Regions from separate parts of the Homo sapiens genome. Here all the other regions are reported to be linked to region 6. Evidence: microRNA targets listed by miRTarBase, many of them from high-throughput screens and not tested one by one. Region 6 holds a microRNA gene; each other region holds the end of a gene's coding sequence.

Region 1 (5,064 bases), not on the chromosome of region 6:
CAGCACTTTAGGAGGCCGAGGCAGGTGGATCACCTGAGGTCAGGAGTTTGAGATCAGCCTGGCCAACATGGCAAAACCCCGTCTTTACTAAAATACAAAAATTAGCCAGGTGTGGTGGTGTGTGCCTGTAATCCCAGCTACTCAGGAGGCTGAAGCACAAGAATTGCTTGAACTCAGGAGGCGGAGGTTGCAGTGAGCCAAGACTGCGCCACTGCACTCCAGCCTGGATGAAGCCTCCCCAAGCCTAATGTTCTTTTCCTGTAACAAAACCCACTGCATGTGCAGGCATCCCTCTGGGCCCTTTGCATCATACCTGTAGGACTTGGGTGTTAAGTGTGAACTGACAGGCTCTTACTGCTTGCTGTGCTGTACTACAGTCCTTTGTCTTTATCCCAGGAGTCTCATGAAATAACAGACCTACTTAATTAGCTTGCAAGAAGGGTACAAATCCCAGACCCTAATAAATGACCTTAAAATTGTGATATATCCAAATCCCCTATTATTTTTCAGTTTTACAATTTAAATATTTTTTATAGTGACAGAATGTCGCTATGTTGCCCAGGCTGGTCTTCCAACTCCAGAGCTCGAGTGATCCTCCTGCTGGGGTCTCAAAATGCCGAGATTAAAGGCGTGAACCATTGCCCCTGGCCCAAATCACCTGTTTTTCTGATAGTAATCTGGCAATTTTATGAGTGTCTAGCATTGTTTTCTATGTGGTCTTCAGAATTGCTAAGATATGAGGCAACCTATAAGCTCTGGGGTTGGCAAATTATGACCTACTTGTTTTTGAAAATAAAATTGTATTGGAACACAGCCACACACTTATCCATTTTCTATGGCTACTTTTGTGTTATAACAGCAGAGGTAAATAGCTGTGACAGTGAACACATGGCCTGGCAGCCTAAAATACTGGCCGTCTATCCCTATAAGAAGTTTGTTGACCCCGTAAGAAGTCATTCCTCATCTAGAGCAATGGATCACATGGCAAAGCACCTTTGAAGGCGAGCCTAGTCTGTTTGAAAGCCAGCCAAGATAAGACTTTTTCTCCAAAGCTGTAAATACATACAGATTTATCAGGAAATATTTTCTACATGGTGCTTCATTCAGGGGTTATCAGTAGGGGCCATGTATGTAAGAGCTATACAGGTAGAGACTATAGGATCTGACTAGAAAGCCCATTTCCAGTACTAGGTGAGTGATTAAAACAAACTGCATCAGAAGAAAGCATCTTGTCAAAATTACTACTTGTGAACTAAAACAAAGGACACATTCCCACTAGAACAGAAATAAATTTTAATTCATTGAAAAGTGCAGCAGTGAACAGGGTCCTTTTGAAGGGCACTTTCTAAGTCAAATGACTGAGATGACACAGAGCAAGGGCAGAATAGGAACAGAGGATGCAAACACAGGAAGTTACAAAATTCAGTGGGAACTAAGTGGTGGTAAAACTCAAGAACCCAACTCTACCCATCTAATTCCATTGGTGGATCAGTTGAATTAACTTTTGCTTTCTTTAGGATGAATCCTGGGACAACTTTCCTTTAAAAAAGCACTAAACCTTAGTTTAGACACTTAATAAGTTTAAGAACACTTCTCACAGAATAAGGTAAAACTTCCATGGCTATCATTACTATTTTGTACAACAGCCCTAGTGTTGTCAATTAAAATGTGTTTGCAGGCCGGGCACGGTGGCTCACACCCGTAATCCCAGCACTTTGGGAGGCCGAGAAAGGTGGATCACCTGAGGTCAGGAGTTAATCAGCCTGGCCAACATGGTGAAACCCCGTCTCTACTAAAATTACAAAAATCAGCCAGGTGGGGTGGCAGGCGCCTGTAATCTCAGCTACTTGGGAGGCTGAGGCAGGAGAACTGCTGGAACCCAGGAGGTGGAAGTTGCAGTGAGCCGAGATCACGCCACTGCACTCCAGCCCGGGTGACAACCGCGAGACTTCATCTCAAAAAAAAAGTGTTTGCAACAGCACCATTTGTCAAATTCAAAGATGCTCAAAAGGTGTTCCCTACTTTGCATGAGAGGGAGAGCTTTGTAACAGGAAATTGTATAAGGCAAACTCTCTATTCATTCCTAAGGCCTCTGTTCATTCCTAATGTTTACATGGTTCTCTACTCTGAAGGGCACCAACATGGACCTCACCTTCTTAACATGGAAAATCAAAATCTAAATGAATACAATTAAAAGGAGGCAGCAAGCTTCTTGCAGTGGGTCCCTTAAACATTATGAAAACATCAGTGCATTGTGTAGTCTGTTACGCTATAAACTGAGGTCTCTTTATGAAAGATTATTTTAGCACAAATTCAGAATGAAGCCAGTCCAAGAAAAAAAGAATTGGAAGCTATTTGAAGGTTAGATAGGAAATATACCAAAAATAGAAGAGCGTAGAGAGGGCTGCACCACATCCTACCACGCAAGCACACCCACTGAACTGAGTAAGAGTGGCGTGGCTGAGGTGCCGTCAGCAGCTGACTATGTCACTCTTATGAGTTCTGCTCAGGAACAAGCATAAAACTGAATAATATGACATCACAGTCCAAGACCTGGTAAGAGTTGGTTTCTTTTTATTTGGAAATAACTATGGTCAACTTTCATTAATGTGGAAGTTGACTGATAATGTTAAGAGTCAAAGTGAAAAAGAAAGCCGATACCCATATTCAACAGTGCTTTCAGTTACAACATTTTTTGAATTTCCTTCTCTAAAACATTCACAGCAGAGGTGTCCATTTCACTTGCCTGTTTCACCTCTAGATACCACCACAGTTGCTGGGGTCATGTGAGGTAAAGGAATATATCCAATTGACTGTTAGCCCAACATGACTATCTGCAATTCTGATAGAAAAGCTACTTTCAGCCATGTCTTACAAAGTGCTTAAAGCTGGACAGAAGACTTTAAATAAAGCTAAAATCGCTTATTGCCTGAGTTGAACAAGTTACAAACCACAGCTCTTCCTCCTCCCCTGCTGTCTCACCACCAATTAGCCTTCTTGTGAGGACAACATTAGAAATGGAACTGGTTTTTGAGCCAAGAAACATAAAAATTTAGGTGTTCTTAGCCAAGCGTGGTGGCTCATGCCTGTAATCCCAGCACTCTGGGAGGCCGAGGTGGGTGGATCACAAGGTCAGGAGTTCAAGACCAGCCTGGCCAACATGGTGAAACTCTGTCTCTACTAAAAATACAAAAAATTAGCTGGGCGTGGTGGTGCGTGCCTATAATCCCAGCTACTCAGGAGGCGGAGGCAGGAGAATCGCTTGAACCCAGGAGGCGAAGGTTGCAGTGAGCTGAGATCATGCCATTGCACTCCAGCCTGGGTGACATAGTGAGACTCTGTCCCCACTTCTCAAAAATAAAAACATTTAGGTGTTCTCAACAGTGAAGAAACCTGAATAGATTTGATTTTGACAGGGGAATACTGATAATCATACAAGACTCCAAAACTCAGGAAGAACCCATCTAAAAGGGGAGAAGGTAGGGTAAAGTAGTTGATACTTTGCATCAACTGTAAGAAAATTTTCCACCTTAAAACAAATGAAGAGAATGACAGAAAAATGCAGATAGAGCCAATGACTTCATACATGGAACTTAAATTCAAGCTCCCTGCTGGACAGGCACTTCTTTCCTTTATCCCTGGTACAGCCCTTCCACTTGTCTGTTCAAGAGCCCTGTCTTCAGAAGGCCCTCGGAAGAGACAACCTTCACCAACTCTTGGCAGTTCTTCACTGCTGATGTTCCTAAGCCACTTCATTTTTCAGATCTCAGAGGGGAGTCTCAAGAGAAGGGACCTTGCCTTAATCCTTCCAGTGTTAACTGGCACTCCCTGTGGTTGGCAGCCACTGGAAAGTAGATGGCTATCACCTTCAAGAGCTACCTGGAATTGGCCTTTATCACAAGCTTACTGCTCTATTTCAGTGCAGCACCAGCCTAGAATTCACAAAAACATGAACAGAGCTTGGGTGACATGTTTTGAATTTGCAACCTTACCACACTGTGATGAACATCATAAAAAATGTATCTCTACTTATCAATCAACAATGGTACTTGTTCTTACTTGGATGATTCAGCTCTGATGGTTACTCTTCAAGCCATGTGATGTTAGTATTTTTGATAGTGAAGTGCTCAATCTGAAATGCTACACAGGTCCTTTGACTTTAGGTCAAGCTTACATATCAAAAGGTGTGTCTGTGTGTTTGTGTGTGTCCTAAAGTACTGCCATTTATCTGAATGGGTTTACAAATTCAGTCTTTAACCACAAGAGGAATAATCAAGAACTGTGGCCCCAGGATAAAAAGAATACAGTGAGAACAAAGACCTCAGGAGTGTCCTTGTCAGCTAAAGGAAGAGACCAGAGACAGCCACTCCTGACACATGGGCAGAGTTCACAGTTTAACACATTGCACGAGGAAGTCAGCTGACTGGGTTGCTTTTTCAAACAGGACTTAAAGCCAGCCCAGAAACTCTTCCAGGTGTGGTCTTGAAGACTAGCTACAGACACCTACTACAATCACTTCATCAGAAAGAGGCGTGCAGGGATCCATCTGCAGAGGCTGTGTGAGGTCGCTACAGAAGATGTTTGGAAAATCTTCGAGTCCTGACACTGCCGCGATTGCTGAACATGAGACGGGGGTCAAACCTGTATCTGGGGAGGAAAAACCAAATGTAACATTAGCTCTCACTAGCTTCTCACTCAGAATATTATTCAGTGGAAAGGATAGCAGGAAGGGGTGTAAAAGAAACAAATCACCAGAAGGGACTCTAGTGAGAAAGTCTATGGTACAAAACATGAGCCCTCGACAGTTCCGAACATTTCTATCACCAGTCAGCACACACAAAGTCACACAGTGCAAGTCAAGAGGAGAAAAACAAGTAGGTTAGTCTTGAAAGGTGTCAGAAGGCAGCAAGATTTGAGATTTTTTTCTTTTGAGGGAGTAGGGGTGGATCAACTGTTACATTATTACAGTGCTTGTGTTCAAGTCACCCTGATTTTATTTAACAATGGCTCCAAACCACAAGAGTAGTGGTGCTGCCAATTCAGAAATGCCAAAGAGAAGCCATA
Region 2 (5,072 bases), not on the chromosome of region 6:
AGTCTTAGAAACAATATTCCTTCAACTGAACCTAGATTGGAGAGCAAAACCCTGGGCACCAATAAACATTCAACAGCTTCCACTTTGTAATAGCAGCATATGACAGAAAGGCTGGTAAAATTATGGCTATTGGGCAATATTTTGAGACAGCTCGAAACCCATGCCTTTTAAATGTCTGACCTGTGTGTTTTTCAGGGCTGACAGCCCTCTACCTTCATCTATAGCAAAATCCTTACCCAATCAAAAAGCCATTAATAGTCAACACAATAGATGACGAACCCTGATAGTGGCCAAGTAGAAAACATTTCTCTGTAGCATTTGGGTAGCTGGGAAGGGAATTACATTGAGAAAATATTTCTTAGGCTACGATGTATCATTATACTGGGAAATATTTTCTGAATATAACCTTGAACTAAAAGCTTAAAAATACTCATAAAGCAGGAAAGGTAGAATGCATATGCATAAAATGACTCTCAATATGTAGTAACAACATTCAGTGGGTACACCTTGGGAAGAGGATACCTTCTTGCCTGGGGAGACCAGCTGGGTGCACATTAATAGTATTCTGTGTGCTCCCAGGTTGGTGTGGCACAGGTACCCTTGCACCTGAAGCCCACTAGCTTGGCAGCTCACACAGCTGCCTTCCGAGTGACTGGGTTTGCCTGACCCTTGCTGAGGTCCAGCTGTTTATGCTGTTCACCAATCGCCACAGACGCTTTATTGGCTGGGGAGAGTGAAGAGCAAAATAAGGTCAGGAGGAGGAAGAAAAGGCAGTTTTTGCCCCATTAATAAACCCTGTGTGCCAAACTTCACCCTGATCCTCTCTCTTAAGCAGCTTTGCCCTTCTGCAAATACTGGGTGTGGGAGAAGCAGAAGGAAGGTTGTGCAGTGCAAGGTTGACACGGTGAGATCAATATTTGAGAGATGATATTTAACTGGCCAAAACAAAACAAAACAACAAAAAAAACAAAAACAGTGTTTTCTCCTGACCATCTCTCTTAAGCTACCTTGATCACGGTCTTGGCAAAGATACAGGCACCTGGGTATTCACAGGCCCTGATGAGGAAATCGGAGATGGAAACCATTACGCAGAATGCACCAAGCGATTGGCTCTGGCCATTTCAAATCTTTCTGTAGGCTGAGCCTTACCAGTGATTTAAGATGAAGTACAATGCTTTTTATTACACACCCAATTGTTAATGAGAGGAAATGCAATCAGCAACTCCTTTCCACACTCTACATGGAATCAAGGAGACTGCTGAGTCCAGAAAAGATGCAGCCATTGATGGAGCCCAGGAAACTTCTCCCCACCCCCTCTGCCTGCCCCCTACCACCAATCCTCCTCTTGGGTGTGGGGAAGAAAGAGAGAGAAGAGTTGCAAATATGATGAGAGTATCATGTCTGAGAATCCACTGTTGCCACAGGGTCACTTGCAGCAAAGGCCTGGGGCTGAAATCTTCACTGAACAGCATTTAACTCTTCCAAGTGTTGCATTTTCTGGCTGATCTGGCTCATGTGAGAGGAGGACACTCTCTTCGTACACTTTCTTCTCAGGTGAAGCAGACAGAGAAAAAAGGTTGAAGGGGCGTAGGGGAGTAGATGGGAAGAGGAACAGAAACAAAGAGAAGGCAGGCAGGAGGCCCAAATCTTCCAGTGTATACATTCTTGTGTTTTCTTTTTCTTGTCCCAGAGGCTATACAGAGGGAACTCTGTCTCCTCCTAAGCATATTGGGGCTGGGCTGCTCTGGCCAGGTGCTTGGCATTCCTGCAGTTAACAGGGAGACACTGGGCACTGGGCTTGAAGCTGCATCCCCCATACCCTAGAAGTGGGTCTCTCCCAGCAGGCTATACAGGGAAACTAGTTCTTCTGCTTAATGGCAAAGCAAGAGAGATTCTGGCAAAACACTAAATATATTTATAAGTCACCTTTGTCTGGAACCAATGGGAAAAAACTAGGTGCAGAGGTGAAAGGAGGAGAGGAGGGGAGGTTTAAAAGTTCCAATCATTCACAAAAGATAGAAGACATCTTCTGATAGCAGCACTGAAGCAGTCAGTTGTGCTGAGTAGACCGTCCTGGGCCGACTGCAGACCAACTGTGTCCCAACAGGAGTCTCAAAGCCCTGCTCCTCGGCTAGTCCAGGGAAACTGGGCAGTAGTTTGATTGTTACTGTTGTTGCTCATCCTGGTATTGGCAGATACGTTAAATACCGCAACTTTAATGGGTCCTGTGTGAAAACAGAGCAAATAGTCATTAGCCCCTTTTTTGATATTTCTTACTTGCTTGAAGACAAAAGAACATTCACTTAGCTGCCAATGGGGAAAAGGCTTAGGGGTCCTTCCTAATGCCTGCTCTCTGCCTATGCCATGCAGGAGCTTCTGTCAAAGGTGACCTGGCCTGATGGGGGAAGTTATACTAAAGGCAGGGCTTGCTGACATGCTCAGGGCTGTGGTGTTCAAGCAGAGTGACTCTGATGTCTTGAGGCTGAGAGTGCCCACGGTTGGCATAGCTTTCACTTGCCCTGTAGAATGGCAGGGCAGGGGTGGGGGATGGTCTGTGGGCCCTGCCTTTTGAGTGGCCATGAGCATGGCGGTGCCAGTAACAGAAGTGGGGGAATCAAGGAAAGCTGGCCTGGCTGTGTGGCTGCAGGGTACCAGCAGTGTAAAGGAGGGGACAGTGCAGTTGAGGATGTGAGCACTAGAAGTGCTCTTGCTATCTTCAAGGACAGCTGTGTGGATGGCAGCTGGAAATGTGGCCTGGAGATTAAGGCAGAGGCTTGGACTGGAGACAGAAATTTGAGTCTTCTACAATGAGATGAGATCTGAAGCCTTGGGAATAGAGAAGGCAGCCTAAGAAGGAACTCAGATAAGGAAGAAAAGCCAGAGACAGGCCGGGTGCGGTGGCTCACACCTGTAATCCCAGTAACTTTGGGAGGCCAAGGGAGGTGGATCACTTGAGCTCAGGAGTTCGAGACCAGCCTGGGCAACATGGTGAAACTCCATCTCTCCAAAAAAAAAAAAAAAATACAAACAATTAGCTGGTCATGGTGTTGTGTGCCCGCGGTACTCAGGAGGCTGAGGCAGGAGAATCACTTGAGCCCAGGAGGTGGAGGTTGCAATGAGCTGACATTGTGCCACTGCACTCCAGCTTGGGTGACAGGAGTGAAGCCCTGTTTCAAGAAATAAAATAAAATAAAATAAAATGAAATAAAATAAAATAAAATAAAAATAATAAGAAAAGCCAGAAACAGACTCTTGGGAGTGAGGGGGAAAGAAGCACAAATAATCAGAGAGTCAGGAAGAATATTAAAAATGGCAAAGTAACACGGAAGTCTAAGGAAGAGAAAATTTTGGGCAAAGGAGGGGGTAGGTATATGGAGATTGCAATATTAATACTCATGACCAGTTTTTCCTGAGGGCATATTATGTATTCGCCACTGTGCTAAGCACTAGGAATTTTCCATGCAGTATCTCCACACAGCCTTCACAGGGTTCCGTGAGGTGAGTGCTGCCCCTCACGTTACTCATCAAGAGATTCAGGGTCTGGGAAGTTACTTGTCTAAGGGCACACAGCCTGTGCGACCTGGCTGAGGAACGACGAACCGTGTCCTCTGTGAGAGAAAGAGAAGCTGAGGACAGCCCAGCTGGGCGTGAATCACTGTCCTCAGCGGAACACTGCAAAGAGAGATGCAGAAACGTGTAGCGAACATGTACTTCCGCCACGAGAACTGAGGCACACGTGGCAAATCCTGACAGCAACGCTCCTCAGCAGCTAGGGCAGCCTTCTCAAACTGGTAACAACCTAGTGTATTCGAACTGGTTAGAACAGCAGGTATGATCTGAATATACCACAATATGTATGGACCACCTGGGTATTTTAGGATCTTCCCCTGCCTGAGAGAGAGGTTGGAGACTTGAGTGGGAGGACATGTGGAGGTCAGAGGTCAAAAGACAGGTCCTCTTTTTGGAGGGTTGAGGAATAGGGATAGGGATATAAAAGCTACTTTTTATATTCCTTTTAAAATCTGCCCTTTTATTTATATGTCAGTGTGAACTTTCACCAAGAGATGTTTCCATTCACACATTAGACATCAGACTGTTTACTTGGCTTGAAAGGTCTCTATTGTAGGTATTGTTTGATCTGGGAACTTAAACATCACAGGCCTTTGGGTCATTACAGTACTTAGTTTTCAAACTGATTCAAATCTCATTTTATTTTCATAACAGTACTACTAGATAACTAGGGCAGGAATGACTAGGCTTACCACACAAGTAGGACCCTAGAATCATCTAGAACTGAGGCTGGCTACCTTGGTGAAAGGCACTGTCCACACTGTGGCAGCTTCAGCCCTGTCTCACATTGTCTGCTTCCTCGGCTTTACAGGAGTTGGTGACCCAAACGGCAGGAGAAAGTTCCATGAACTAGCAACACCTTACAGCTAATATCCCGTCTCCTACCCACAGTGTTATGTACATAATCGATTTCGATACCTGGGCAAGTATGAGGTCAGTGTATGGTTATTTATCTGGAGATGTAGGTGTATGTTCGAGAAGGGGAACGGGGGGGTTCAGCTTGGGCAGCTGGATCATTTAGGAAGTCCCAGATGAGGATTGTGTCATCATGTGAACTACTGACAATCTGGAATTCATCAAACTGTAGTCGAAAAACTCTTCCGGAATGCTCCTAAAGAAGTAGAAACAAAAAGGGTAGGAACTTGAACTACTCAAAATCAATAGGACACAAATTCAGCAACATGTCAAAAGGAGTCTACGGAAAGGCTATGGTTTGCTGTTATAAAGAGGCCAGGCGCAGTGGCTCACACCTGTAATCCCAGCACTTTGGGAGCCTGAGGCATGCGGATCACGAGGTCAGGAGATCGAGACCATCCTGGCTAACACAGTGAAACCCCATCTCTATAAAAATACAAAAAGTTAGCCGGGCTGGTGGCATGTGCCTATAGTCCCAGCTACTTGGGAGGCTGAGGCAGAAGAATTGCTTGAACCTGGGAGGTGGAGGTTGCAGTGAGCCGAGATCACTCCACTGCACTCCAGCCTGGGCAACAGAGTGAGACTCT
Region 3 (5,068 bases), not on the chromosome of region 6:
GCCGAGTACAGTGGCTCAATACCTGTAGTCCCAGCATTTTGGGAGACCGAGGTTGGAGGATCACTTGAACACAGGAGTTCAAAACCAGCCTGGGCAACATAGATCCCATCTCTACAAAAAAATTATTTAAAAATTAGTAGGGCGGCTGGGCGTGGTGGCTCACGCCTGTAATCCCAGCACTTTGGGAGGCCAAGGCTGGCGGATCATGAGGTCAGGTGATCGAGATCAACCTGGCTAACACGGTGAAAGCCCATCTCTATTAAAAACACAAAAAAATTAGCCAGGCATGGTGGCAGGCGCCTGTAGTCCCAGCTACTCAGGAGGCTGAGGCAGGAGAATGGCGTGAACCTGGGAGGCGGAGCTTGCAATGAGCCGAGATGGCGCCACTGCACTCCAGCCTGGGCGGCAGAGCAAGACTCCGTCTCAAAGAAAAAATAAAAATAAAAATTAGTAGGGCATGGTGGCGTGCACCTGTGGTCCCAGCTACTTGGGAGGCTGAGGTGAGGCAGGACAATCAGTTGAGCCTAGGAGGTCAAGGCTGCAGTGAGCTGTGGTCTTGCCACTGCACTCTGGCCAAGGCAAGAGCGAGACCTCATCTTGTAAAGAAAAAAAAAAACAAACTTGTGGGGCCCAGTGGCTCACGCCTGTAATCCCAGCACTTTGGGAAGCCAAGGTGGGTGGATCACCTGAGGTCAGGAGTTCGAGACCAGCCTGGGCAACATGGTGAAACCCTGTCTCTACTAAAAATACAAAAAAAAATTTAGCCAGGCAGGGTGGCTCACGCCTGTAATCCCAGAAACTTTGGGAAGCTGAGGCGGGCAGATCACGAGGTCAGGAGATCGAGACCATCCTGGCTAACACGGTGAAACCCCGTCTCTACTAAAAACACAAAAAAATTAGCCGGGCATAGTGGCGGGCGCCTGCAGTCCCAGCTACTCAGGAGGCTGAGGCAGGAGAATGGCATGAACCAGGGAGGCAGAGCTTGCAGTGAGCTGAGATCGCGCCACCGCACTCCAGCCTGGGAGACAGAACGAGACTCCGTCTCAAAAAAAAAAATTTAGCTGGGCATGGTGGCAGACACCTGTAATCCCAGCTAATCAAGAGGCTGAGGCAAGAGAATCGATTGAAACTGGGAGGTGGAGGTTGCGGTAAGCCAAGATCAGGCCATTGCACTCCAGCCTGGGCGACAAGAGGAAGACTCAGTCTCAAAAAAAAAAAAGAAAAACAAAGTACGTCCTCCACCTCTCTGCAGGGCTCCTCAGAGTCCTTTCGCCTTAGACCACTTGGGGGCAGGCAAGCAAGAGACCTGGGTTTGAATCGCTGCTCTGCCATTTAACAGGGGTGTTGGCCGGGCACGGTGGCTCACGCCTGTAATCCCAGCACTTCGGGAGGCCGAGGCGGGCGGATCATGAGGTCAGGGGATCAAGACCATCCTGGCTAACACGGTGAAACCCCATCTCTACTAAAAGTACAAAAAATTAGCCAGGCGTGGTGGCGGGCGCCTGTATTCCCAGCTACTCAGGAGGCTGAGGCAGGAGAATGGCATGAACCCAGGAGGCGAAGCTTGCAGTGAGCCGAGACTGCGCCACTGCACTCCAGCCTGGGAGACAGAGCGAGACTCTGTCTCAAAAAAAAAAAAAAAAAAAAACAGGGGTGTTGGGCAAGTCTCAAAACCTCCCTTCCCCTTCTCTACTAATTGGGGGCCACAGTAGGTACCATCATTGAGTGCGGTCACTGTTGTCCGTCCCCTGAGCACCTCCCAGTTCTGACTTCTGACCTGAGAGATGTTATGCTGGATGCAAACACCCGCATCTCACAGCACAGGATGTAGAGGCCATCGGGGGAGGAGGACTCGCCTGAGATCTCACAAATGCCAACTGGAACCTAAGCTGGGTCCCGGTCTCCCAACCAGTGACACTCTGCCCGAGATGTGGTTCTTGGTCTCTTGTGTGTCAAGACACCCCTGCTCTCCCACCTCAGCCTCAGTTCCCTTCAGCAGGTTCCTTCAGGCCCTGCTGAAACGTCTGCATGACCTCCCACAAGGCAACGTGACAGCTAAAAACCAAACCCTGGCCGGACGTGGGGGCTCACGCCTGTAATCCCAGCACTTTGGGAGGCCGAGGCGGGTGGACCACTTGAGGTCAGGAGTTCCAGACCAGCTTGACCAACATGGTGAAACCCTGTCTCTACTACAAATACAAAAAAGTAGCCGAGCATGGTGGGCACCTGTAATCTGAGCTACTTGGAGGCTGAGGCAGGAGAATCACTTGAGCCCGGGGAGGCAGAGGTTGCAGTGAGCCTAGATGGCGCCACTGCACTCCAGTCTGGGTGACAGAGCGAGACTCTGTCTCAAACAAATGAACCCCAACATAGCTGTTGGTGGCAAGGCCTTTCTCCATGACCAAGGGACGGTGGCCATTCTCTCCAAGTTTCTTCATCTGTAAAATGGGTACAATTCAGTGGCCCTCCCTAACAGGGCTGGCTAGGTACACATGGCCACCAGCCCTACTTGCTGTGTGACCTCGGCCACTAATGTTCACATCCCTCAGGGTCCCCAATGAGTTGGAAGCCCAAAGCGCAGGGTCTTAACAGCAAAGGGCAGAGCAGGCAGGAGAAGCAGGAAGCCTCGGGTCAAAGCTCTGAAAGTGAGGGAGTCCAAGGTCAGACTATCTCTGCACAGTCTCCTTAAAAGGCTGTGTGATGTCAAGCCAGTTGCTCAACCTCTCTGAACCTTAGATTTCCTCAAAGTAGGGAGTAGGATGTTGGGAGGAGGAGGAGAAGCGAACTTCAGGGAGATACTTGGAAAATCCCAGTCCTGGAGGCAGACCTCTTGGGTTAGATCCCACCTGTGCCAACTTCCTCCTGGTACTGGGTCCATCAGCTTGTCCTGGGCCTCAGCATCCCCCGATCCACCAAAAGAGAAAAGCTTACACTGTAAGCCAAGCACTGCTCTGTAAACATAAACTCTCTTAATCGTCACAACTTTATGGGGCAAGTTTTTCGACTGTTCTCCCCATTTTATACGGACAGGCAAACCAAGGACCAAAAGGTTAAAAAGTTTACTAAGTTTCTGTCTCTTCCTTCCTGCTTTGGGCTGGGGCTGTGCCCTTTCCACCTCGAAATCTCTCCTTCCCAAAAGGCAAGGGGGCATTAGCTAGTTCCAAACGCAGATCAAAGACCCCAAGACCCCTCCCCAACCTGGACATCAGCCGGCCCCGCGCCAAGGCGCGTCTAGGGGGCGCTCGCTGCGCGCCAGATGTGCGGGCCGCTCTCAGACACCCGCTCTCTGCTCCCTCCAACAAGGGGAGGAGCTAGGGACAGAGGGAGGAGAGAAAGGCGGGGGTGTAGGGGGGAAGCGAACCAGGCCCCGCCCAGCCCGCCAGGCCCCGGCGGGGGAAGAAGGAGGCGGAGAGCCGAGCTGGCGTAACGAGACTTTACTGAAAACAGAAAACCGGGCGAACCAAGGATTACAAACAGGAATGTGGACTCGTAGCAAAACAAAACAAAACAGAACAAAAAAGGGAGGGGGGACCGGTCGAAAGAACCGAAGGGGGGAGCGAGATCGAGGAAAGGGGCGGAGAATTTTTTTTTCTTCTTCCCATTTCTTTAAAAAACCAACACAAGAAAACACACACACACACAACCAACGTTTGTTCCCGAGTAGAAACATAAATAGGGCAGAATCGAACACTCTGTTCTTCTCTCTTCCAAAGAAAAAAAAAAAAAAGTAAAAGTAAAGGAAAGGCAGGGTTTGAGGCTGCGCCCCCTCGGAGCCCCCTTCCGCGGCGCGGTGTACAAAGGGGCAGCCGAGACGCGCGGGTTTGTGCAACACGGGGCGGCCGCGCGGGGGAAAGAGGCAGCGCGAGGGCGGGGGGGTCATGCGCTCGCCCCCCCGGGAGCAGGGGGTCCAGCTTGTCGAGTCCTGGGCACCCTCGGGGGGGGGGAATCCCCGGGGGCCGCGCCCTCTCTGAGTTCCTGGGCACACTCGGGGAGGGGGGGTCCCCAGGGCCGCACCCTCTCCAAGTCCGGGGCGCCCACGACACCCCCCCGCGAGCCCGCCCCTTGGGGAGGGTGGCCGCGCATGCGCCCCGCGCGCGGACTCAGTACGCGGGCACCTGGTGCTGGGGCAGCAGCTGGCAGCCGCTGTTGACGTGGCTGAGGACTTTCTGCTTGAGCTGCGCCACCTGCTCGCGCAGCAGGCTCGCCGTGGACGCCAGCTCCGTGTTCTGACTCTTGAGGGTCTTCACTTTCTCTTCCAGGCGCGAGATGCGCTCCAGCTTGCGCTTGCGGCACTTGGAGGCGGCGATGCGGTTGCGCAGCCGCTTGCGCTCCGCCTTGATGCGCTCCTGCGTGTCCATGTCGATGGGCGACAACGGCGGGCTCTCGCCGAAGCTCGGCACGTCGGGCACCGTCTGTGGCTCGTCCTTGAGCGCAGCCAGGCGCGGCGGCCCCAACGCGCCTGGGGGTGGCGGCGGCGGGAAGGGCACAGGTTCGGCAGCGAAGGCGACCGTCGCGGCGCCCCCCGCGCCCCCGGCGCCGCCCGCGTAGCTGCTCAGGTTCGCGTAGACAGGCGCTTCGGGCGCGGCCGCCGCCGGGGCCAGCTCGCCGGGGGGCGCGGAGCCCGTGGCCGTGCCCGAGGGCCCCCCGGCGGCGGCGGCGGCGGCGGCAGCGGCCGCGCCCGCGCCGAGCTGGTTCTGCTTGTGTAAATCCTCCAGGGCCTTGACGAAGCCCTCGGCGAACTCCTGCTCCTCGCTGGCCGCCACCTTGGGGTAGAGGAACTGTGAGCTCGTCGGCGTGGTGGTGACCAGCCCGTTGGACTGGATGATGAGGCGCTCGAGCTCGGGGGAGGCCAGCTTCAGCAGCCCCAGGTCGGGAGAGGCGAGCAGGCCGTCGGGGGGTGCCGCGCTGGGGGCGCCGTCGGCGCGCAGGGGGGTAGGAGGCGGCGCGGCCGCAGGCTTGAGCGCTGCCGCCACCTGCTCACTCAGGCTCAGCGTCAGCGCGTCCTTCTTCATCATGCTGCCGGCCGCGGCCGTCGGGGGCGCCCCGGGGAACAAGCGGCCCGGGGACG
Region 4 (5,072 bases), not on the chromosome of region 6:
ACGTTCTCATTCCACTCAAGACATGTAGGTGTGCTTCCACCTCAGACCTGTGCACACTGTTCCCTCTGCTTGTAACTCCTTCCCTCCAGGTATGAAAATGGCTCCAGGTATGAAAATGGCTCATGCTGTCACCTCATCCAAGTATTTGCCCCAATACTATTTTGTTGTGGAGAGGACTTCCTGTCCAACCAACCTAAATGATCACCCCTCTCCACAACAGTATCCCAAGCCAGCTTAACTTTTCTTCTAGCTCTTATCACCACCTGAAATGGTATCTATTTATTTGTTGATTTTCTTTCTCCTCCATTAGGACATGTACTTTATGAGTCAGCAATAAATGAATGCTTATGCTTTGCACATACTTTGTTCATTATTTTTCTTTTCTTTCTCTATGGCTGTGGTTTTGTGAAAGAAAGAGAAAAAGCCTCAAAAATAAACTCACTATCATTTCTGCTTTTACATAGAATTATACTCTTATTTCAGGCTGCTTTTCTAAAACACCTAACATTGGAGATAAATAAGAGGTCATGTTTTAAATGCAATATATTGGTGGTGGCAGTAACATAGCGTGCCATCCATCATTTGGAATAAATAAAAATTTCAGACTCTGTCATGCAAACAATCTCTGTGAACAATTATTTAATACAAATACAAAGACAAAAGATATGGGGGAGTTGTCCCAGCCTGGCAAGTAGAGAGAATATAAGAAACTGCAACTCAGATTATCCTGTTCCAAACTTCTCCAATAGTTCTATTCCTTGCCTACTTATGTCACCACCAATCCGGAGCTACTGTAGCCCAAGGAATTCCTGACTTTCTACCTGCAGGTCTATTAAGTAAGGGCAATTATTCTGCAAAGAGGTGACAACTCCTTTATGGAAAATGTTGAATTCTAGGGTAGAAAACTGTGCAGTAATGAAATGTCAGTAAGACCACAAGGAGCCAACTCCACTGCAATGGTGACTGCAGACAGGGAGTGTCCAGGTACCACAGTGAACAAAGTGGGTACAGAGCACAGCATCCACTTACTGTCTTCAGGGATGCTTTTGGCATGACTCTCTCAAGAGATCAATTTACTGTTGAGCTACAACACTCTACATTTGAAAAAATGGAAAATAAAAAGTCTTTCTTTAAGAACAGTTGGTATTGTCAATCCTTAAGCTACCTACATCAACAGGACTGGGACCATGCAGGTATCTGTGGGATGTGCCGACCTTCAGAGGAAGTCCTAACTAGTCAGCAATGTGGAGCTTTGATAGATGAGGTCATGCTTAGTGAACTGAAGCTCATATTTTATTCAGTAGATGTAACCTCAGTTTTATTCAACTGAATAACTTCCGCTACTCCAACACTCAAGAGTATTGACTGCTGTTTTAGAGCTTTGATATGCCATTCATTTTGTAAAGGCAATTTACAGGGTGTTTCAACTTTGGCTATAGATAACCAAGTTATGGGAAGGATGAAAGGGTTCCATGATATTGCAGTATAATTGAACAAATGCATGACTCTTTTTACCATTATATAAGGCAAACCAAAAAAAGCAATATGGCAGTCTTTTAAAAAGGGAGATAAACTATACAGGTTACTAAACCAAAGAATCATAGCGAAATATTCTTTTTTTTTTTTTTTTTTTTTTTTTTGCAGAAAAGGGGAAATAAAGAAAATGGAGTAAAGACTATTTTCACCAAGGCCTGCCCTTAAAGGAGCTAAGCACCCTCAAAATAAATTCATGCTTCTTAGCTCTCACTTTCCCTTAATATTGGCACAACTCAGCCATGGCATTCTGCCAATTATCATCAGAGTGAGAAATGGGGTATTAACCTTCCCTTTTTCAAGGAACAAAGTTCTTAAGAAACAATTGATTACTGCTTGCCCAGGGCCTGCACATGAAACAGTAATTCTCCTGGGGAATCTACTATTTGTGGAGTAAACCTTGAAGAAAAAAAAATTCAATCTGAATTCATGTGTTGCTTTAATAGTCGTTGAATTATCATAGTCTTGTATTTTCCTTCTTTTCTTCTTAACTATGAGTTTTCTTTCACTCAGCGGCCTATAGAAACCAAGGATCTGCAAGCCACCAATATGCCCAGAGCCCTACAAAGATTTCCAAAGGATTTGTAATATAAAATTCCAGCCTTGCTTCTCCTTCCAGAAGGACATATCTAAATGACAAATATGTATCTATATGGGTGTATACACACACACACACACACACACACACACTTTCCTACACACATTTCTTACTCTCTTATAAAAATGAGTAAAGTATACTTTTTCAGGAGGATTCAATATGAAATCACAAAGCTATATAAGGAAAAAATAACTTGAAAAAACTTCAAATTAACAGATATCTTCTTGGAAGCTAAATTGCTATTTACCATTGTAATACAGCTGACAAAAAATAAACCTTATGCTCTGTTGAATTAAATTAAATTAAACATAAAAAGGCTACAGAAAAATCATTTATGATAAATTCAGGGAATATAGCTACTTGATTTTACACATTCAATAAATATTACCATGCCAAACTATGAAGACATTTTTGAATTATCTTTCAACTCAGCTCGTGCTAGGTTGTTTCCATAGCAATAGTGAGTGAACAGTTAAAAGCCACTTTATCATTTCTGTAGCTTGCGGTGGTCACCTTGTGTTCATTTTAATTTTTTTTTAAAAAATGCCTCTATGCATCGAAAATTAATTTGACAATACTTATATTTCCTTTTCACCCTAGTGTAAAACATAACAGGGCAATATTGGATTGGCTTCCTTTATTGAGTTTCAGGATGTTTACTTTTATCCCCTCTGACATTCTGGTGCATCAAAATATTTAACATGTAATTAATATCATAATATCTTTTAACATTGATATTTTTAAAAATTTTATATCAAAACGTGAAGGACCAATTCTTGAAGACATTCTCAACCTCACATACTGCTCTCCTTATGTGTATCAGTTAGAATCCTGGCAGGAAACAGATGGCACACTCAAGCTGGCTAATTAAAGAGTATAACAAAGGGACCATTTATAAAGATATGCCTAGAAATAGAGAAAACAAGATTGAACAGTTACCTCCCAAGGACAGAATAGCCAGAGCTGTTAATATCCCTAAGCCAGAAGATGCAAACAGTAGAAGTTATCAGAACCTGGTGAGGCAGTGAGACAGAGAGGAGTACCTTTCAAGAGATATAACCTTCAGTAAGGTGACACACCAAATCATGGCGGTGGCCAGGCAGGAAGGGAGCCAGCGGAATAAATATCCAAACTTGACCTCTTCCTAATATGCCAGCTGTGTTTCCTGCTGCAGTATAATTGAAACCAGACAAGAATCAAGAGGAAAAGGAACCCACTATTAGGGTCTGTATAGGTCAGCCACCCCAGGATGCACAGCAGGGTAGAAAGGGTGAAATTGAGGATCTAGAGAGGAAGAACTAAGTTATCCATCACATCCCTTACTTAGGCATATCATTTTCAATTTGGAAATTTGGAAATAGCAACTTTCAATTTAGAAATAACATAGCAGGAGTTTATCATCAGCAGAACTAGAATGCAATTTTTATAGAATCATCTGTGGAAAAGAGGAACATATTAAACAAGATACTCAGACTCACATGTGTTATAAGGTAAGAGAAATATTTATTTAATTTTGCACAAGAACGAGCTTATACTGAACAAATTCAACCAAATAATATTAAGTGCAGTAAAACAAGGAAATAGGGATGACTTTTCCTGTTAGAAAATATTAAGTAACCATGCCTGTGCATTATTTTTATCATTACAATAACTTGTTTCAGATTTCTTTTCAGAGTGTACTGTACATAACATGTTATAGCTTCTTTGCTTTACTTCTGAAAATATAATTCATTCACTGCCTGACATTTTATTTCTTGCAGTGAGGAACCTAACTGATTCTTGAAGATTCTGATCTAGAGGAAAATTTTCTGCACCAGTGAAGCTAGAGGCTTTCACAGATCCAATGGGCTCAGGCTTTCTATCCAGGGTTCAGGATGTCACGGTATATACTGTACGCCCATTCTTCTACATGGTGATGTGAGACACAGTAGAGGCAGACTTGAGGTCTAATTTTGCCCCAGTAATTTTCCTTTTGTGATTTTGTCAAGCTCCACAAATTTCATAATTGAAAGTTCACTCAGCTATTAACAAAGCTGCATTTAGCTGCCCACAAATCACCCAATTTAAGTTTTAACTTCTTTTTGGTCTTTTAATGAAAGAACATTCTTTTAACAGAAATCTCCCATGAGACAGTTAACTTCACAGTTCCTGAAGGCACTGTGGATCCACTGAGCAACAGATGTGGCCATTCTAGATTTAAAAAAAGTAGAAAGAAAAACAGTATGAATTTTTAAGCCATTAGTAAATGATCACATTTATTGATTGGTACTTACAAACAAAACTGTATAATTTATTTCTGCATTCCTAAAAATTCAATGGCCCAATCACTTTTCATGACTCTACTATTGCAGACTCAATTATTATGCCCATTGTATTTGTGGGAAGTCATAAACTGGCTTTATTTACTCATTGGCATCCTCTGTATCACATTTGTTCTTTCATTTATTTGCAAAATATGTACTAAGTCTATGTAAGCACTAAGTATATTAATAAATAAAGCAGACATGGTCACTAACCTCACAGAGCAGGGTTTGCAGTTTATCTAGGGAGAAAACTAGTAAGTACCATGCAAACATATAATCAAAAATTGTGAAAAGTGCTAGAAAGGTGCTATGAACTAAATGTTTGCATCCTCTTAAAACCCACATGTTGAAATCCTAATCCCCAGTGTGATGGTATTAGGAGGTAAAGCCTTTGAGAGGTAATTAGTGAATGAGGGTAGAGCACTCATGAATGGGATCAGTGCCCTTACAAAAAGATGAGAACACATGCGTCCTCTCTCTCTATCTACCATGTGATACAATGAGAAATGGCCATCTGCAAACAGGAAGTGTGTCCTTGGAGATACCAGATCTGCCAGGGTCTGGATCTTGGAATGTGAGAAATGAATTTCTCAGCCTCCAAAATTGTGGGGAATGAATTGTCGTTGTTTAAGCCACCC
Region 5 (5,072 bases), not on the chromosome of region 6:
AATTGGCCAGGCATGGTGGCGTGTACCTGTAATCCCAGCTACTCGGGAGGCTGAGGCAAGATAATTGCTTGAACCTGGGAGGCGGAGGTTGCAGTGAGCCAAGATCGCACCACTGCACTCCAGCCTGGGCAACAGAGCAAGACTCTGTCTCAAAAAAAAAAGAGAATCTAATCTGATTAAATCCTGGGTTCACTCTCTCCAACTCTTAAAACACAAGCCTCCAGCTACTTATTTTCTAGTGAAAGTACATCATTTTTAGTAATAATGTGCATCATTTGATAATTAGGTTAGGTCCCCTTTGTACAATTAAAGCAAATTTCAACAGTTTGTATAATCCATTTTCATCATCATCATCTTTATTTTACCTAAAATGTGTTAGATCTTACTAATTTGGGGAAACCTGATGTTTTGATATAGTAGAAGTATTAAGTGCTTTTTTAAAAGAACATGAATGTTAGCTTTTAATTTTGGATCAGCAACTGACAAATAAATTTCAGGCACCTTTTTAAGAACTAGAGATAACCAACAAAGTACCTGACCAAAGGATCTTTGCCCAGGTAGGAAGATAACAGCTATAATCAGATGGGATAACTATTGCACTAGAACCACGTACAAGGCTCAAGGAAGCAAAAATTACAGACCCAGGTGTGAATGTCAAGGAGCATCAGAGAATGCTTCCTGGTAGGGGTGGTTGCTGATCGGGGTTTGGAAGACTTATGATGGGATAGGATACGTGTTGCCATACAGCAGGTCTGCCCTGTGCAGTCTGTCGGTTGTACAGTGGCATCCTGCCAACAAGGTGAGTGGGAGTGGAAATGGAATCTTTGCTCAGCTCACCAAGCCTTAACAGGGGCTGCATTGGCAGGAGGAAGGGGATTCGTTTTTTGTGGTTGTTGTTGTTGTTGTTTTTGCCAAAAGTGCCATCTGCTTGCCAAGCCTTGAACACTGCCAGGCCGCGTCCTTCAAAGGCACCTTTTTTTCTCTCAATGATCTACCCAGAGCACCTTTTTTTTTTTTTTTTTTGAAATGGAGTCTCGCTCTGTCGCCCAGGCTGGAGTGCAGTGGCGCGATCTCGGCTCATTGCAAGCTCCGCCTCCCAGGTTCATGCCATTCTCCTGCCTCAGCCTCCTGAGTAGCTGGGACTACAGGCACCCACCACCACACCCAGCTAATTTTTTGTATTTCTAGTAGAGACGAGGTTTCACCATGTTAGCCAGGATGGTCTCAATCTCCTGACCTCATGATCCGCCCTCCTTGGTCTCCCAGTGCCGGGATTACAGGCGTGAGCCACCGTGCCGGCCTGAGCACCTTTTTAAAGCCAGCAGTAGCTCTAGGGCAAGGAAGGGTAAAGAGAAGGAGGCAGGTTTCCAGATGGAAGAACTAGATTCCTGCAGTTGCAAGTAGTTCTGCATTGCTGGAGCACTGAGTGTATGAAGCCATCATGTGTACAAAGGACCTTGTCTGAAATGACTAAGGAGTGTGACTTTGATCTTGAAGAAAGTAGGCTGTTGGTAGATACAGGTGGCTTGAGGTGAATATAGGGATATTTGCTTTTGGAGAGGTCCTTCAAGATGCTACATGGACGAGGATGGTCTAGCGCAGTGGTCCCCAACCCTTTTGGCACCAGGGACCGGTTTCATAGAAGACAGTTTTTCCAGGGTGGGGGCGGGAAGGGGGGGTGGTTTCAGAATGATTCAAGCGCATGACGTTTATTGTGCACTTTATTTCAGTTATTATTACACTGTAATAGATAATGAAATAATTATACAACTCGTTATACTGTAGAATCAGTGGGAGCCCTGAGCTTGTTTTCCTGCAACTAGATGGTCCTATCTGGGGGCGATGGGAGACAGTGATTGGTCATCAGGCGTTAGATTTTCGTAAGGAGCATACAACTTATATTCCTTGCATGGGCAGTTCACAATAGGATTCACCCTCCTATGAGAATCTAATGCCACTGCTGATCTGACAGGAGGCGGAGCTCAGGTGGTAATGCTTACTGACCCACCACTCACCTCCTGTTGTGTGGCCTGGTTCCTAACAGGCCACAGACAGGTGTGGGTCCATGGCCCAGGGGTTGGGGACCCCTAGTCTAGTGTGAAACAGGGAAGCCTGTTAGAAAGGTATGTAGTGACCCATTCAGCCCCAAGGGAGCCCATGAAGCCATGGGGATGGTGAAACTATATAGTGCATCACCGGGAAGGTATTATGGTTAACTTAGAAGCCACAGTTTCTAGGATAGTCTTGCTTTTATCATATTCTGTCTGATGTTTGTTCTCATTAGAACATAGATTTTTATTTCCAGCAGTGTTAAATAAGATTAGGGGTATGTGTGTGGGTGTGTGTGTGTGCGTGTGTATGTGTTTTGAAGGGAAGATTCAGAAGTTCTGAAGGCAGGATGATCAATTTGGGAAATTGTTCAAGGGGCTTATTAGAACCTACCTGAAGGGAACGTTTTTCTAGGACACAAAACACCGGTGCAAATCCACTGTTGAAAATGTTCTCCAATGTCTATTGTGAAATGGAGAGATTTTGAGTTCAGCTCCTTTCGGGAGGGGAGGAAAGAATCCTCTCCAAGGCAGCTTCCTCTAGCAGTTTCCTGCCTCTTGTGGGATGAGAAGATTTGCTGTCTAAGATATTATCATATTTATTTGTATTTTGCTGAGTTCTTTTACTGGATGTAAGGCAGTCCAAATGTTATTTGGAAATCTCCTATCAATCAATCATGCAATTTAGATAGAAGTTAGTTCCATACAGTGTGATCTCTGACTTGCTAAGGTTTAGAATAAACTCAAAGGGCAATGTGGCACAGTTATTAAGGTTTGAGAGTATGCCCATCTGTGCTCTGACTCTACACATCCACTGCGAGAAGAAACATCCATATAACACCAAAAACACTATATGAAAATCTTGTTGCACAGTAGGCCACCCATCAATATTACAGCTTTTCTTTTTCTTTTGATGTTCCAGGTGACCTGCAGGAAATGTAGAAATCAGGAAACTGACATACAAAAGAAAAAGTTAGTAGCAAATGGAAACAACTTTATAAAAATATAATATGGTATATAGTATAAAAATTATACTACAGTATACTTTTTACTTTATAAAAAGTATACCATAAAATAGTTTTAAAACTATTTTTATACTATATAAATAGTATAAGCAGTATAAAATAGGCTGGGCAGGATGGCTCATGCCTGTAATCCTAGCACTTTGGGAGGCCGAGGCAGGTGAATCAACTGAGGTCAGGAGTTTGAGACCAGCCTGGCCAACACGGTGAAACCCTGTCTCTACTAAAAATACAAACCCTGTCTCTACTGAAAATTAGCTATGCGTGGTGGCACATGCCTGTAGTCCCAGCTACTTAGGAGGCTGAGGCAGGAGAATTGTTTCAACCCAGGAGGCAGAGGTTGCGGTGAGCCGAGATTGCACCACTGCACTCCAGCCTGGGCTATAGAGCAAGACTGTCTCAAAAAAAAAAAAAAAAAAAAAGGATAAAATAGTTTTAGGACATAGTTTTATATCTAACATGATATGACACTGAGTTATTGTGTAAAAAGTTATTTTAAAATATAAAAGTAAATTCTTTGAACTAAGACAATGAGAAATTAAATATAAATGTTTAAGACCAAACTTAAACCTAGAAAAAACATCATCTCAAAATGACATGTTTCCCATGGCATAAGAAGCTGCTACAACTTTTAAGTGTGTAGGTGGTGGATTTTGAAATCTTTCTAGATTTTTCTTTCTTGAGAAATCTGGGTTTATCTTGAAAACCCTGAATTAGAAAAATTAGATTGATTTCATTCAGCGGCAAACACAGGAAGATGTATACTGAATCATATTTCTTAAAAATCTCAAATTTAGAAGATTGTGAGGTTGAATGAGGTCATCTCCTGAAGCTTCTATAGCAGGAATGCCGATCCATGATGAAGGACAGGATTGCATTTATTTTCTTTAGATGATCTACCATTGAACAGTAGAGACAGGGTCCCTCACGGTCTGTATCCAAACAGAACCCGGATTTTTACAGACTGATCGAGGCATAATGCTCAGAACTACATCTCTTTAGAGGCTCACTTTGCAAGGAAAAAAGAAATCATTCTGCCCTAGAAGGGGGCTGTAGGAAGTATTCACAATGAGTCAATTAATATCAAGATCTCCTGTTCCAGGAAACTGTTACTAAGTATTACAAAGGAAATTTTATGTGCTCACATAAGTTTAGAAAACACTGGCTTAAAGCTGGTATAGAATTATTCTTTCCTAGAGAAATATTTACAGCATTCACTATGCTAATATGAATTGTGATCCCTAGACAGAGGCATCTGATGTGAAGTAAGTCTCAAACTTATTTGACTATAGAACTTATTTTTAAAGTCCTCTGAAGGGACCAGTGTTTTGAGGAAAACATTATGGGAGGTATGGGACTGGATCAAAAGCTAATGAGGATATTGTAAGGGGTATTGTCCTGGTGTGGAGTGGCTGCAGCACAACTTGAAGAGATCAATTTCTAGAATTTCATCCCACATCTGCTGAAATCAGTCATTTAAAGGTAGGGCAGGAGATAGCTCCATTTTAAATAAATGTCTCAGATAATTCTCATGTCCATTGAGGGCAGAGGTCCCACCAGTGCAGAGATGGGTTAAGAACCGCTCAATGATGTAACTTCCTAGGTCACTGTCAGTCACAATGCCATAATCCTTTTCATAAAGCCCTTTCTACTCCCAGCACTCTCTTCAAAGTATTCTTCACTTCTGAGTTCCTAAGACTACAGATAAGGGGATTGAGCATGGGATTAAAGAGGCTGTGAAACAGCAGGAGATATTTCTTCTGCTCCTTGGGGTTCCCATATCTGGGTCCAACATACATGATAATGGCTGTGCCATAAACGAGTCCAATCACACAGAGGTGGGAGAAGCAGGTGCGGAAGGCTTTCCTCTGAACTTCCCTTGATTGGATCTGAAGGATAGCACAGAGGATGCACATATATGAAACTACAATTGTGGACAAGGGTCCCACCAGCCCAGAAATTGCTCCGGCCAAGACCATGTTCTCATTGATGTGGGTATCTG
Region 6 (5,072 bases):
AAGCTGCGGGGAAGGGGGTGGCAGAGCCTGGGGCCTGGAAGAGGAGGTAAGAAGGACCCTGAGCTGCAGACCCGGGCGTCTGGCTGCCTCCAGGCATCTCCACCCAGATAACACCCGAAGTGACCAACAGGAGATTCATCTTCCCCCGAGCCCGCTCGCCCTCCCAGGTGCCCATCTTGAACATTCTCGCTGACAACCCCCCTCATCCCCACACGCACCCCAACCCCAACTCCAGGACAGGCAATGGCCACTGTGCCTCCCTGCATCCTTCTCACCTGAACCTGCCCCCTTCTCCACATCCCCCATCTCTCCCCTGGTTCAAGCCCCTACCACCCCTCCCTGGAGGTCAACAGTCCCTGGCCAGTCTCCTGCATCAGGTCACAGAGAGATCACTGAGAATGAGGGTGCCAACACAGGGGCCCAGAGGAGCCAGCAGGGAAAGGAAACAGCGTGGATCAGGTATGCAGGGAGCCAGAGGGCACCCACCCACTTCCAGCCAGTGGTACCACCAGGAAATGCAAGATCAGAGCATCCAGGTCCAGGGGACCAAGACAGGCCAATATTTGGATTTATCTATGAAATTGTCCCAATTATACAAAGTTGGGCCATCACTGTTAGGAGTCAAAGAAAGTAGAGCCTCTTGCCAGATCCAATTTGGGGGCCATTATTTGCAATCTCTGCCTGACACAGAACTCTGACTCAGCCACTCTCCCTGCTTGAAGCCTTCCATGGCTCCCATCACCTTCAGGATAAAGGCCAGACACCTTTGCAGACTCCTAAGTATCTTATGGTCACTGAACCACTCCCTGCCGCCACCTCCAGCCTGAGAGCCGGGACCTTGTCCCTGGTGTGTGCTCACCACTGAGCCTTAGTGTGAGCTCCAAATTTCCTGCTCAGCCAGTGAGTGCATGGATGGTCGAGATCAGGTAGTGGCCTGCCTCCCCTACCTCAACTCAAACCATGCCCTGCCCTCACTCTCTTGCCCTGTCGCCCCCAAACTCCACACTCCAGCCACACAGGATCCTGCCATGCCCCAGAGCACAAGTTTTTGGCTTGGCAACATTGTATGTGCTATTCCCTCTCCCAACATATATATTCTTCTCCTGCCTCTTCCCCTCTGCCTGGCCAACTCCTCTGCTTAGATGTCACCTCCTCCAGGAAGGCTTCCTGACTCCTCCAGTTCATTCTGTGCTCCCCTGTGCCCTTTCCAGTAGCAGAGGTAGCACTGAAATCAATATTACCCACAGCTGTAGGGTGCACTTCCAGTCTGCGAAGCTCTTTCCTGTTCATTAACATGTTTAATCCTTGCAATGACTCTGCAAATTAAGGATAATCACTCCCTGTACAGGTGAAGAAATGGAAGCTCAGAGAGGTGAAGTGGCTCACTCATAGCCACACAGCAAGTAAGGGAGTAGAGTCCGTGCATGACCCCTGGGTTCACAGCCCCATCCCCAGGCAGACAGCAGGTGAGCAGGTGAACGTCCCCTAGCCACCACAGCCTACACCATCCCCAGGGACTTACGGCACACTGCCTGTGAAGTTGATGCCACAGAGGTGCTCTGAGCTGGTGACAGTGTCCCCAAATAGGGGCCCATCAGCTGGCACAAACTGGATGATGTTGGGGGGCAGGCCAGCCTCCCGAAGGATGCGGTAGACAGCATAGCTGGCCAGCATGGCAGTGTCACTGGGCTTCCATAGGACCACGTTGCCCTGCCCGGGAGGTGTTTCAGTGATGCATGAGGATGGCGCCACCAGCCCCCAACCCCCACCCCACCCTACCCTACAGCATGGTTGTCCCTCACCTGGAACCACCAGACTCTGTGCCAACCAGGACATCCCCTACCCGACCCCACTCCTCCAAGGCGTCTGGCCCTATCTCCAAAAGTCCCTGCCAAGGAGGCCACGGCACAGCCCAATCTGCCCCACGCTCTGGCCAAGGCTCCCTTTCCCCAGAAGCCTGCACCAACCGGTCCTGCCATCACCTAGGCAGGTCTGTTCTTACTGCTAGAGTCACTGAGTGCTCACCGGGCGCGGCGGGGCAAGTACACACGGGCTCTCTCAGCACATGTCCTGGGTCAGGCATGTGCAGCAGCCAGGCACGTGGGCGCCTGGCCATGCACCGTGTTTGTCTGTGCACAGATGCATGAGGACGTCCCCATCCATGTCCCTAGTACACACTCCGGCATCAGCATCCAGTGCCCCTGTCTGGGGCTCGGGGTTCCCGACAACTATGTGGACCTCTCCCACCCAGGCTGTCTGGGAGCTGGGCTGCACCTCCCCCACAGGCCTGGGACTTCATCCAGTAATAGCCAACCTCACTCCGATAATGGCAGAGGAGTGACTTGAATACCATCAACCCCGAGAGAGACTACATCCAAATCTTTCTCTGCTCCATCATTTATTTACTAGTCACTCAGTCTTGCCAAGTAAGTCACGGCTGTGTGTCTCAGTTTTGTCATCTGGCAAAGAGGCAGAGTCACAACTCCCTCTCGAAGCTGCTGAGAGGATGAAATGAGATCATCTCCATGCCGTGCTTGACAGCAGCAGGCACGTGGTGAGCACTGAAGGTCAGCGGTAATGATCATCAACAGAGCCACCAACACTCAGCCAGCTCCGGGCCAGCCCTGCCTGCTGCTGGATGTGTCTCATTTGAGCCTCACAACCCAGTCATGGAGGCTTTCCTATTATTTCCACTTTGCAGATGAGGAAACTGTGCCTCAGAGAAGTTCAGGGATTGCCAGGGTCTCCCAGGCAGAGAGGCACGACGCTGGGATTCAAACTGGGTCTCTGGTCCCAAAGCCTACCCACAGCCCCAAGCTGCCTCCACCTTCTGTGCCTCTCCCCATGACTAGGCTGAGACCCAAGGGGCTCAGGGTGGCCTCTGTCTGTCTGTTGGGACCAGGAGGACAACCAGCTGCCGCTGTCCCACCTGTGCCCACATCTCACCATCAGGGCCGGTGCCCCCGCCAGGTTGCCGCCGATTGCAGTGAAGTTAAAGGGCGAGATGGCCGCCACGAAGCCCTGGGGAAGGAGGCAGCGGTGAGATCAGGCCCATGGCATTGGGCTGCCCCGCCTGCTCGCCCACTGCCTCCTGCAGGTACCTCCAGACCCCGGTACACCGTGCTGTTGGTGCTCGGGGGCACGCTGATGGGCTGCTGCCCCTCCAGCTCCACCGCATACTTGGCATTGAACCGGAAGAAGTCGATGAGTTCCGCTGCAGCGTCAATCTCCGCTTGGATCACGGTCTTACCCTGCAAGGCAGAGGGCCGGGGGTCAGGAGCAGCCAACAGCCTCCTGTCCATCCTCTTCTCACATCTGACGCTGTGCCCAAAGCGAGCACTGAGCCGGGCCCCAGGAGGGACCAGGAAACATTTGGAGGGCTCACCAGGTCCCATCCCAGGGGCTGAGGGGGAAAGGATTCTCAAGCCCCTGAGCTAGCACCTCCTGTAGCCGGCCCTCTGGGCTGGACGGGGATCAGAAGAATTTTAGTGATCCTCTGTAGCAGGCCAGGTACTTGCCATGCACTGTCTTCATTTCATAGCAACTCTGAATGGTGGTGCATGGCAAAGGATCTATGGTCAAGCCTCAGACTAAATTCAGGATCAGAGCCTTCCAGACAGAAGGGCAGATTAGCATGAGCTGGAGATTGGTCACTGGAAAACCAGGAGAGAGACTCGGTGTGTGGGAGGTGGATGGCTCCTTCCCCAGGAATGATGTTCGGCCTTGCTGGTTAGTTTGGGCCAAAAACCAAGAGGCGAGTGACTGTGATTCCCTTAAACCGTCAATTCTTAATAACAGCAAATGTGAGCTGCAGGGAAAAGAACTGTGGACAGCCAAGAACGGGGCTTTTCCAGATTGACGTGGCCTCCTCTTGGCACCCAAGGTCACTGGCAGGTGCACGACCTATTAGAGACACACAGCCCATGAAGCTGAGCTAAGATGTGTACCTTGCTTCCTAGAAGTTCCTGAGTCTTAGGCCAAATACAGAGAAAGCCTAAACTGATCCTAGACTGTCTTCCCAGCAACGTGCGGCTCACCAGGAACACGCAGAGCTGACGCCCACCCCAGAGGGCTGCTGAGCCAATCTAAGAAGGCATTTAGCAGGCTGAGGGGCTGTCATACCAGCTCTGTGCAGCAGAGGGGGCGCTCACCATGGGGACCGAGGAGCAGGCAGTGGCAAATGCCTGATCCAGAAAGCAGCCTGGGTTCTGGCTCCTGCAATTTACCCTTCAGGAACCCAGGTTAGTTGGCAGCGTAGGGCTCAGGTCCTGGAGGTGGTGAAATAACCCTTTCTCCCTCGACTCCTGTCCCCCGCACACTCTGCCTGCTAGAGCCACTCCTCACTCAACTTGCATTTAGCAGGGTGAGGAGCTGTCATGCCAGCTCTGTGCAGAGAAAACCATTGATCAGGGGCTTGCTATGCCTCCTGAAAGGTATCATGCAAAGCCCAGAAAAAGACCGAGAATGTCAAGACATGTTTACTATGTCCAAAAAGCTTGTAAAGGGGCAGTACCTAGGAACTCAATACACTCCAGTGCAATCTGAGCTGTAACTGATGCAGGAACAACATGCTCTGGGGAAACAGAGGCAGGAATAGTCCTTTCGGCTGGAGAAGGCTCAGGAAGTCTCACGGAGGGGGTGACATCTGGGCTGGACCAGGAGGTAAGAGTTCACTGAGCACGGAAGAGACAGCAGGCATTCCAGGCAGGAGGACACGTGGGCAGAGGCAGAGAGGATGCCTGCCATGGCCGGGGAGTCCTGCTAAGTGCCAAATGGCTACACTATGGGCAGGACAGCTTGGCAGGGAAATGCAGAGCAGTGGGCGAGCTGGACAGAGGTGGGCAGAAGGGCCCTGGGTATGGGGCTCAGGTCTTGGGACTTGCCTCTCAGTGGTGGAGAGGTCTGGGTGGGTCATAAGCCAGGAGTAACATCCTGGAGGTGTTGGAAAGACCACTCTGAGGGCGGCGAGGGGCTGACCAAGCTAGGAGGCAGGGAGACAGTGCAGGCCACCACCAGTCCAGGCAAAGCATGACAAAGGCCTAGGAGCGAGGACAGAGGGATGGAGGAGAGGG

What was found. Region 6 holds the annotated microRNA hsa-miR-4695-5p (CAGGAGGCAGUGGGCGAGCAGG, at 3,073-3,094, opposite strand). A microRNA usually pairs through its seed, bases 2 to 8, with sites in the 3' UTR of a target mRNA and lowers its output. Matches are read on the target gene's strand: a 7mer-m8 pairs with bases 2 to 8, a 7mer-A1 pairs with bases 2 to 7 and ends in A, and an 8mer does both.
Region 1: the mRNA of GNS is a reported target of hsa-miR-4695-5p. Seed matches in the 3' UTR shown: 7mer-m8 at 3,271-3,277, 7mer-m8 at 3,239-3,245 and 7mer-m8 at 2,196-2,202.
Region 2: miRTarBase lists BTRC as a target of hsa-miR-4695-5p. Seed matches in the 3' UTR shown: 7mer-m8 at 1,635-1,641.
Region 3: the mRNA of JUND is a reported target of hsa-miR-4695-5p. Seed matches in the 3' UTR shown: 7mer-m8 at 3,401-3,407.
Region 4: miRTarBase lists NELL2 as a target of hsa-miR-4695-5p. The part of its 3' UTR that is shown has no 7-base or 8-base seed match.
Region 5: the mRNA of OR2A4 is a reported target of hsa-miR-4695-5p. The part of its 3' UTR that is shown has no 7-base or 8-base seed match.

Annotation. Positions count from the first base shown.
Region 1 is chr12:64,712,173-64,717,236 of GRCh38, forward strand. GNS (glucosamine (N-acetyl)-6-sulfatase) reads right to left here. Exons shown (of 14, transcript NM_002076.4): 14 at 1,277-4,647. The coding sequence ends at 4,569. Among named protein-coding and RNA genes, the nearest start is that of GNS, 45 kb to the right of the region's middle.
Region 2 is chr10:101,550,308-101,555,379 of GRCh38, reverse strand. It overlaps BTRC (beta-transducin repeat containing E3 ubiquitin protein ligase), which reads right to left. Exons shown (of 15, transcript NM_033637.4): 14 at 4,489-4,681; 15 at 1-2,225. The coding sequence ends at 4,520. Among named protein-coding and RNA genes, the nearest start is that of POLL, 35 kb to the left of the region's middle.
Region 3 is chr19:18,276,341-18,281,408 of GRCh38, forward strand. It overlaps JUND (JunD proto-oncogene, AP-1 transcription factor subunit), which reads right to left. Exons shown (of 1, transcript NM_005354.6): 1 at 3,354-5,068. The coding sequence ends at 4,101. Among named protein-coding and RNA genes, the nearest start is that of JUND, 2.7 kb to the right of the region's middle. RefSeq lists enhancers at 2,561-2,640, 2,981-3,190, 4,416-5,068 and silencers at 3,241-3,440, 3,871-4,180, 4,761-5,068.
Region 4 is chr12:44,504,664-44,509,735 of GRCh38, forward strand. NELL2 (neural EGFL like 2) reads right to left here. Exons shown (of 20, transcript NM_001145108.2): 20 at 3,615-4,321. The coding sequence ends at 4,271. Among named protein-coding and RNA genes, the nearest start is that of NELL2, 370 kb to the right of the region's middle.
Region 5 is chr6:131,695,765-131,700,836 of GRCh38, forward strand. It overlaps OR2A4 (olfactory receptor family 2 subfamily A member 4), which reads right to left. Exons shown (of 1, transcript NM_030908.2): 1 at 3,880-5,072. The coding sequence ends at 4,705. The region is part of intron 15 of ENPP3 (ectonucleotide pyrophosphatase/phosphodiesterase 3); the gene reads left to right. Among named protein-coding and RNA genes, the nearest start is that of OR2A4, 3.1 kb to the right of the region's middle. RefSeq lists an enhancer at 4,737-5,072.
Region 6 is chr1:18,880,178-18,885,249 of GRCh38, forward strand. MIR4695 (microRNA 4695) reads right to left here and starts at 3,098; the gene lies at 3,025-3,098. ALDH4A1 (aldehyde dehydrogenase 4 family member A1) reads right to left here. Exons shown (of 15, transcript NM_003748.4): 6 at 3,102-3,251; 7 at 2,947-3,021; 8 at 1,523-1,710. RefSeq lists a silencer at 3,952-4,183.